3 linked regions of the Homo sapiens genome follow. The protein of the gene in region 3 interacts with the protein of the main gene of each other region in a pairwise test. Each region holds a gene or a part of one and is shown on either strand. Other genes may lie near its edges.

Evidence for each region.
Region 1: the proteins of NOC2L (region 3) and RBFOX1 interact in a two-hybrid assay, tested with the Homo sapiens proteins (one large-scale study listed by BioGRID).
Region 2: the proteins of NOC2L (region 3) and ATXN7 interact in a two-hybrid assay, tested with the Homo sapiens proteins (one study listed by BioGRID and IntAct).

The regions. Positions count from the first base shown.
Region 1 is NC_000016.10:7,709,019-7,711,582, forward strand, and holds part of RBFOX1 (RNA binding protein fox-1 homolog 1), read left to right. Parts: intron 1-37; coding exon 38-113; intron 114-475; coding exon of another isoform or gene 476-623; exon of another isoform or gene 624-1,604; coding exon 1,605-1,727; 3' UTR 1,728-2,564. UniProt on the Homo sapiens protein: RNA-binding protein that regulates alternative splicing events by binding to 5'-UGCAUGU-3' elements. Regulates alternative splicing of tissue-specific exons and of differentially spliced exons during erythropoiesis.
Region 2 is NC_000003.12:63,978,867-63,982,522, forward strand, and holds part of ATXN7 (ataxin-7), read left to right. Parts: intron 1-1,048; coding exon 1,049-1,301; intron 1,302-3,319; coding exon 3,320-3,579; intron 3,580-3,656. UniProt on the Homo sapiens protein: Acts as a component of the SAGA (aka STAGA) transcription coactivator-HAT complex. Mediates the interaction of SAGA complex with the CRX and is involved in CRX-dependent gene activation.
Region 3 is NC_000001.11:943,703-946,635, forward strand, and holds the end of NOC2L (nucleolar complex protein 2 homolog), read right to left. Parts: intron 2,844-2,933; coding exon 2,700-2,843; intron 2,585-2,699; coding exon 2,471-2,584; intron 1,952-2,470; coding exon 1,816-1,951; intron 1,445-1,815; coding exon 1,355-1,444; intron 1,099-1,354; coding exon 992-1,098; 3' UTR 501-991; downstream 1-500. Other genes in the region: SAMD11 (sterile alpha motif domain-containing protein 11), read left to right, coding at 1-106, 206-451.

The sequences.
Region 1 (2,564 bases), on a different chromosome or scaffold from region 3:
TACTGTGGATCAATCTTCACCTCTATTTTCCTTTCAGTTACGGACGAGTTTATGCTGCCGACCCCTACCACCACGCACTTGCTCCAGCCCCCACCTACGGCGTTGGTGCCATGGTGAGTACAAGTTTCTCCTTGTCCTCACTTCCTCCTGCCTCCCTTCCCTTTCCCCAGCTGGGACCTCAGTACGGGTTGACGTCCTCTCACTTCCCGTTAATTGAATTTGTCTCTTGTGCTAACAGCAGCTAAAATGCCACATTAATCCTCCCAGTAAACTTGATAAATGTCTTAATTTCTTGGCAATGTAGTGCATGTAAGTTATTATATTTCTAATTTTGCAAGTCTCACCTAGCAGAGCACTTACCTTAATGGAATAATTAGTCATTTTGATAATTAAATCCATCACTAACAGAATGCAGTGTCAATGCAGAACTTTTTTTTTTCTTTTTTTTTCCCTCCCTTGCTGCTCATTCACATAGCCCCAAGGTTCCAGCCCCAGCACAGACTTCAGAGGAGCTAAGCTGCACACTTCCAGGCCTCTGCTGTCAGGCAGCTGAGAATCTGACTGCCTCTCCTCCCCTATTACAATTCATGTTTAAAGTCATAGTCGCCCAGGAAAGAAAATAGAGAGGGGCACACTTTGTGTGTGTACCTAGTACATAAGAAAGTAGAAGGAATCAGCTGGGTTTGGGGGTTGCCTTTTGTTTTGGGGCAGGTCTGGGTTTTTGTTTTGGGAGGGGGTGGGGGGAGGGTAAAAAATGGGAGGTAAGGGTGGGGTGAACTTGCCTGTACTTGTTCAAACTTCTATGCACTGAAACTCTTGAGTACAGTAAGACGTGCCCATCACGTGAGAGCATATGCAATCATTACAAAGCTTTGGCATGCAGTTTTCTGCTTGGATCAAGAATATCAGTCCTTACCCTAAAAATGAATCCCCATAGGCATTCATTTGAATTGCCAATACTTTTAGAAAAAGGAAATCGTTAAGTGCCACCTTGTAGCCATTAAAACCATGGCCGGACAGTTCACTGAAGCTCAGTCATAGAAATTCAGCCATGATTTGGAAGCATTGTTTTGCACAAGCTTAATTACATCAAGCAATTCATCTGTACAACTCCACAACTCCCTTCTCAAGATCAGATTCCATACAGCTTACAGAGCCAAGTTAAGTAAGAAGTAGGTTGAGATTTTCATCCCAATTCTGCATTCAACAACTCTGCTTCAACACCTAGTCCACATGAGGAATGTGTTGGAGAGTTGAATTACATTCAACAACTGGTCCAAATTCAACCTCAAGTGCAGATTATTCTGTTATAAAAAAATGAGACAGTGAAAATCCTTCCATTGTCCAGCTTATAATAGAGTCCTTTTAGCTAAGAGGACTGGCTGACAGAATTTGGTTTTGCAGGGAATTTCTTTAGGAGGAGCTATTGGGGAAGGTCAGGAATGGCCCTATCTTTAGTTCTCCAAGAATGACCTGGGATGGGTAGGGGGTGCCTCCATTTCGGTTGGTTTTGAGTGTCTATTTTTCACATTAGTCTTTTTGATGATCCACATGTTGCAAAAGGAAAATGTAAAAAACACACCCCTCAAATTGCTTTGTTTCAGAATGCTTTTGCACCTTTGACTGATGCCAAGACTAGGAGCCATGCTGATGATGTGGGTCTCGTTCTTTCTTCATTGCAGGCTAGTATATACCGAGGGGGATACAACCGTTTTGCTCCATACTAAATGACAAAACCATAAAAACCTTCCAATGTGGGGAGAAAGGAAGCTTTCCGAGGCCTGAGTATTGCAATACATGCAGTAGTACATCATTTTAGCAACTCTAAAAAAAAAAAAAATACAAATAAAAAGGAAAAAAAATTACATTTTTTATCTTATACCTCAGATATTTTGTTCTGTGTATTTTAATATTGTGGGTCTTTAATTTCTGAAGGTTCCGTAGTTTGGTTGCTGGCTGTAGGAGTTTTTGTGGTTGATCTAGACAGATGCTAGATAATGAATAAAAACTGGTTTAGGGCCATATCCAGAGTGCTATATTATGTAAATGAATTATATATGCTGAATATTAAGCTACTGGGGTTATCAGCTATTTGGGAAGAGTGTAAGTGACTACAGTAGTCATTTTTTTCTGCACCTGCATTATTTTATTTTGCGAAAGGGGAGGTTGGGAGGGGCTTAGGGGATTGGAACTGGGGTTTGGCTGAAAGAAAAAAAAAAAAATGTAACTGATGAATCTAAACGACCCACTGCACCAACAATCATTTATCAATGGTTCTAAGTTACTCATTGCCAGTTCAAGCCAAAGGTCATGTTGTTAAGGGGGTGCTTCTAGTAGCACTTGTGCATCTGAGTTGAATGAAGCTGTGCAAACCCACCCTTTAAACCATTCCACCCGGCAGTATTCAGCTTCTTAACCAGTCGCTATTTAGGAAAAAAAACCCACTAGTTAGGCCATCAACAAGCATTCTTTTTATATTTCTTCCAGTATAATAAATTATTGATATCACTGCTGACTTTTATATTATGGGAGGGAAAAAATAACATTAATAAAAAGGTGATAAA
Region 2 (3,656 bases), on a different chromosome or scaffold from region 3:
CCATTGAAGTCTTACTTGTGGTCATTGATCATCATGTGCTTAATGTTTTAAATACTTATATAGCTCCTGTATTGTGATAAGGCAGTGTTGGATCACATGCATTTTAAAACTTAGAGTTAAGCAAATGTGTAATTTTAAATTAATTAATTAAAGGCAGCCACTAAGGTACTCAAGCGGATAAAGTTACCAAATGATTTACTTGTTTCTGATGGTAACATTCTTCAACAGCTCTTGATTTATATTAGTATGGATTACCTTACTCTAAGAAAACCTGATTCTCCAGTGGATAGATTTATTTTCAGCTAAACCTTTGTAGTCTGTACTTAACCATGAATTACTTCCTGGTTTAAAAAACAGGCGTAGCTATTTGTGGTATTTTTGTCTTGCGCCTTTGGCATCTTAGCGGTGTGAACCGGAGCTATGCCATCTGTAGTCAAGTGAGATTATTAAAAAAGGGGGGGTGGGAAGTGAAATGATTCACTGGAAAATTTCAGCACAGATTCTTAGGGAACGATAAGATAACCCTAGAAACATTCTTATTTGGTGTCATCTGCTGGTGGGTAGTGACAGGGAAAAAAAAGAAGGTACAACTTGTTTCTTAAGATTTTGCTATTTTGAAAATCAGAGAGGTGCGGTGTTAGAAAGGAAGAAAGAATTGCTTGCAGTGTCATTTAGCAGAGCTCTGCAGATGAATGAATAATTTTCCTCTCTCTTAATGCAAGTTGGAGCCAATGAGGTTCATTTTTAGCACGCAAAACCCAAAAGGCAATATTCTCATGTTTACGATGGTTGTCTAATTTCCTGATGGGTGTATGTGATAAAACTCTTTATGCTGAGATACTTCAGAAAGAGAAGGACCCGTTCCTAGAATGCTAAGTAAGTCTGTGGGGCCTAGATGAGCCATTTCTGAAGTCTGCTGAGTTTAACATACCTTCACTTAACGACACGTGTTTTAACCTGAATATATTGATTTCAGGGAATTCTTCCAGAATTACATTTGAGATTCGCCTAAAACATGATGTCTTTTTTTCTTTGCTTTCGTTTTCAGAAAGAAGACATAGCTCATCCAGCAAGCCGCCTTTGGCCGTTCCTCCCACTTCAGTATTTTCCTTCTTCCCTTCTCTGTCCAAAAGCAAAGGAGGCAGTGCAAGTGGAAGCAACCGTTCTTCCAGTGGAGGTGTTCTTAGCGCATCCTCATCAAGTTCCAAGTTGTTGAAATCACCCAAAGAGAAACTGCAGCTCAGGGGGAACACCAGGCCAATGCATCCCATTCAGCAAAGTAGAGTTCCCCATGGTAGAATGTGAGTATGGCCAAGAGGGTTTTTAAAGCTTACCTGCTGGAAATGAAACTGTGTACACTAGTGGCATGTGAGAGTGCCTGTGAGTAATATAAAAGAGAGTCTACTTGGGGAAGAATTCAAATGTATGTTGTATTGTTTCTTGATGTTTCCCTGTCATGTCATAGGAAACTTTTCAGAGTAGTAATAGCAGTGATAATAAGGTTACTAACATTTATTGATCCATTCTTGTGTGCTAGCTACTGAAACCTAACTCTATGTGTGTACTATGTCACTTATCACAACAACCCTATGGAATAGGTACTGTTACTATCCTCGTTTTCCAGATGAGGAGAAGGAAGCTTCGTGAGGTGGGGGAGTTTTGTCCAAAAAGGCCTCAAGTCACATAGGCCTGGATTTGTGTCCCATTTCTGTCACTTCTTAGCTGTAGGGGTTTGGGCAAGGCACTGTTTCTGTCTAAGAATAACAGCCACTATGCTGGGTTATTGAGAATATTTTAGTTAATATATGTCTAGCACCTGGCATAGTGTCTGGCCATAGGGGACGGTTAACAAATGGATACTGGCACTCCTGCTACTGCTGCTGTGGATAATAGTAATGATAAAAAGATGCAGAGATTCCCAGATGCTGCTGTAGAATTTTTGGGGGTCTACGGAGCAAATAGGGAAGCAGTGCTTCCTCCCTTCAGCCTTAGGTTCACATCACAGCAGTGATGAGGGAAGACTGAAGGAAGTTCACACCTGCCAGGCATGGCTTTGGCAAGTTTCCATGGTCACTCAGTAGATTGACAGGTTTCTTGAGGTCACGTGAGGGAGCAGCCACGCACTCCAATAGGAACATGCTTCGCCTTGTCATGGCATCCCTCAGCCTGGTGACGGATGGCTTTTCTTGGGCCAGCCTGCTTTTGGAGGGTATAGCACACATCGTAGGTCCAAGATCCGGTAACCTGGTTAATCTCAGGGTAGGGTCCAGCACCTGCTGCTGCATAAGGACCTTGCCAGCTGGGAGAGGATGTGACATCTTGCAGTCTCTCTACTGCTGTCAGGCTATTCCAGGTACAGTTGTTTGGGGCTGTTTGTCCTGGTTGCTAAGCCCCCAGCCCCTGTTCTTCTGTCAGAAGTACAGTACAGCAAGCTTGGTTTTTGTTCCGGGAGCAGTCTGAAAGCCACAAACGGTGCCAGTGTAGTGTGTAAGTCACTGGCCAGCTTAACAGCTGTTAGAGCACTGACTCCACTGAACAAAGTTTATACAACCTCATTGATTCAAATCTTCTTTACTTAGAGCTAGGCCTTTAGATAGGAACCAGGCCAGTTGTTAGCTTCCTACCAGTATTTTCAGTTTTACCAAGCAAAATGATAGTGTCAGTAAGATTCCAAGATTCATATCTTTGTTAATGGCACAGGTATTCCCTAAGCTCCTGTCATAGAAACATTTTTCAAGGACTGGAGAATTACCACTTTAGTGACACAACATATATTTATTAAACACTAGTCTCCCTTATTGACAGAAGCAAAGAACCTCTTCTTGGAGATATGTTATTTAGCATGTTTGAGTTCTCATAAGTCTTTAGTGACATTTATTGGAAATATTTGCTCACTCAGAAGTTTACTTTGTTTTGATGAATCCTTTCGTACAAATGGCAGTCCTCAAAAGATATTCTCCAAGGGTTCTGCAAATAGTCTTTGTTTCTTTTAGACCTTCTCATGTTTTGCTTCTTATAGAAATTGCATTGCATTGGGTATCAGGTCTGAGTTTCCCATTGCCTCATGTGTAAAATTTTTTGAAATGATGAAAGACCAGGCAAATTTGATGGTCCACTGAGGGTTTTGCCTCACCAGAAGGGCTTATAGACTTAATCAGTATGAACCTTACTAACAAAACTCATAAGGAGCCTTCCAAGAGGCTGGCCCTGTGCAGCGCTTGGGTAGGCCCAGGCTCTATCCTCATCCCTCTGGCTCACCATTCACCTGGGGGCTGCTGAGGCACTCAGGCACTGGTTTTCTCACTTCCTCCTGTGACAGCATGACACCCTCTGTGAAAGTGGAAAAGATTCATCCGAAAATGGATGGCACACTACTGAAATCTGCGGTGGGGCCAACCTGTCCTGCTACTGTGAGTTCCTTAGTCAAGCCTGGCCTTAACTGCCCCTCAATACCAAAGCCAACCTTGCCTTCACCTGGACAGATTCTGAATGGCAAAGGGCTTCCTGCACCGCCCACTCTGGAAAAGAAACCTGAAGACAATTCCAATAATAGGAAATTTTTAAATAAGAGATTATCAGGTAACTTCAAATTTTCTTTCTTCATAATGCTTCTCTATATATTAAATGGGCATTCGTGGGGAGCAAATCAACTGCAA
Region 3 (2,933 bases):
CAGGGAGCAGGGGATCGACGGGGAGACCCTGCCACTGCTGACGGAGGAGCACCTGCTGACCAACATGGGGCTGAAGCTGGGGCCCGCCCTCAAGATCCGGGCCCAGGTGAGACGCTGGGGAGTGAGGTCAGGGTCTCCAGACCACAGCTGGGCAGAAAGCTCTGGGTGGGTGTGCGACAGCCCCCACCAGGCCATCTCTCTGCAGGTGGCCAGGCGCCTGGGCCGAGTTTTCTACGTGGCCAGCTTCCCCGTGGCTCTGCCACTGCAGCCACCAACCCTGCGGGCCCCGGAGCGAGAACTCGGCACAGGAGAGCAGCCCTTGTCCCCCACGACGGCCACGTCCCCCTATGGAGGGGGCCACGCCCTTGCCGGTCAAACTTCACCCAAGCAGGAGAATGGGACCTTGGCTCTACTTCCAGGGGCCCCCGACCCTTCCCAGCCTCTGTGTTGAGGTTGCCGGGGGTAGGGGTGGGGCCACACAAATCTCCAGGAGCCACCACTCAACACAATGGCCCTGCCTCCCACCGCTTTATTTCTTTCGGTTTCGGATGCAAAACAAAAAATTTTAAAAGAAAATGTGACTTCAAAGGAAAGGAACAAATTTTCAAAGACTTGGGGGAGTGAAGGCAGAGCCTGGTGCAGATGGACGAGGTCTGCAGACGGAGGGCAGAGGTGGTGGAAGGGGCCAGGGGCCTGCAGGCCTCCCCCTGGAACTGGGACTGGTCTCGGTCTGCTGACGTCAGGGTCAGCTCCCCCGCGGAGCTGACTTCAGCAGCCCACAGCTGTGGGGCTTCAGCAGCCACACCAGCCCAGCCCAGCCCAGCTCTCGATACGTTTGGTCTTTCATGCTGAAAAATAAATAATAAAGCCTGTCCCGTGTCTACTGCCTCCCCCAACTGCACAGACGCCAGCCTCTAGGCCTGACTGCCAGGGAGGTGGAAACACTGGCCACCAGCCCGGCAGCCCCTACAGGCCCCCCAGATGGGCTGCCTCAGTCGTCCTCTGAGAGCTGCAGATCCTCCAGCTCGTCCTCCGGCCCCTGGGCCAGCTGCTGCAGCTCCCCAGGGGCCAGCCCCGCCTCTGCGTCTGGGTCTCCATCTGCGGGGAGAGATGGAGGCTACATAAATTTTGCTTTATCAGGAAGAAGCCAGCCTTAGAGGTTACTCATCACTAATTAATCACGGCACTAATTAATTTATCCCTGTTGCTGGCTGCCAGAGAACAGAGCATTTGGCCTGGCCTTCCCAGGGAGGGAAAAGCCTGGCCCAGAGCCCCACGCCCCCCGCCCACGTGGCTCTGCCCTCCCGCCAGATGGGCTCACAGGGCCACACCCTCTCACCCCAAGACCATTCACCCTCCGAGTTGCTGCTGTCCTCCTCGCCCTCCTCCTCGTCCTCTTCATCGTCTTCCACCCCATGCCGAGTGCTCAGGGGCCTCAGTATCCCTGAGGAACAAGAAGCAGAGTCCATATGACTCCCACCCACAGGGTCCACCAGCAAAGTCACAGTGGGGGCAGGAGGGTGGCCAGGCTCCCAACACCCTTCCCTCCGCTGACTTCCAGCAGGTGGAGAGGAGCCCTGGGGAGGAACTGGGAGGTCACAGGCCTGGGGACAGAGTTACCAATCCCAGTAGGCCTTCACTTCAAGGAGGGAAGGCGCTGGCACCAGAAGCCTGGCAACACTGAGGTTGGCCCCAGCTGGGCCAGAGACTGGTGAGCCCCCTGCAGGATGGGTACAGGTGGCCCTCGTGGCTCTGGGAAGTCCAGCAGAGCCCTCCAGGCCCACCCTTCCCCTGGGAGCACCACGCAGGCCCCACCTCTCTCCGAGAATCCCTCGGTGTCGTCCTCTTCAGAGCTGTTCAGGTCAAAGAGGTCTTTAAATTGCTTCCTGTCCTCATCCTTCCTGTCAGCCATCTTCCTTCGTTTGATCTCAGGGAAGTTCAGGTCTTCCAGCTGGAAGGCCAAAGAACCAGGGGCTCAGGTGAGAGAGGGCAGGGGCTGGCGGCCACAGCAGGGCCAGGCATCGCCAGACCCACCACCAGGGCCCCATGTGGCCAATTTCTAGTCCCCTCTGTTCCCAAATCACAAAGCCATCCTCCAAGTTGTCCATCCCATGTCCAAGGTCAAAGGCAGAGCCCTTCCTGCTTCTCCTCACGGGCCCCTGGTGCCCACATACTGGCCTGGGTGACGAGGTCAGTCCAGCCACTCCACCTGCCCGGAGCCTCCAGCCCATCAGGCCTGAGGGGGCATGGCCTCCCCAACCTAGTGCAGCCTGGGGCTTCCCCTCCCTGGAAACGCCTGGTTCTGGCCAGTTCTCCAACACCTACCCCCTCTCCAAGTCGAATCATCCGGGCACGGCCCTGGCCGCCTGGCACTGTTTCCAAACCCTCGCCCTGGTCTCAAGTCATAGTGCGCTAGATCTGAAACCCAGGAAGTCACAACACACCCCCAGGTCCCCTCGCCGAGCCGCACCCGCTCTTTGCCACTGATCTCCAGCTGGATCTCCCGGTCACGCAGCTTGCGCCAGTGGCTGTAGTACAAGGTCAGGGGTGTCCCCTCTTCCCGGGTCAGCTTCTCCCAGGCTTCCTGGGGGGTTGGGGGAGTTCAGGGTCATGCCTCACCCTGGGCAAACCCCCACATGTAGCTGGGGCTATACCCTGGCAGGTGCCCTCAGGTGGCACTACCCCCAGGGCCCACTAACCACTGCCTGCTGCTCAGAGACGCCGAAGGAAACCCTCTGGCGGCGGCTGCAGATGTATGCCGAGTTCTCCTGAACCTTCCCAAGCAGCTGCTGCACCTGCCGGCAGTAGTTGGCCACCTTGCACTCCCGGAGGAACGACTTCAGCTGCGGAAGGGAGGGGTCAGCCACTGAAGCCCAGGACCGCTCCATGTGCACAGCTGGCCCAGGTCCTGTGCAAAACCACGCGTGGTGGCC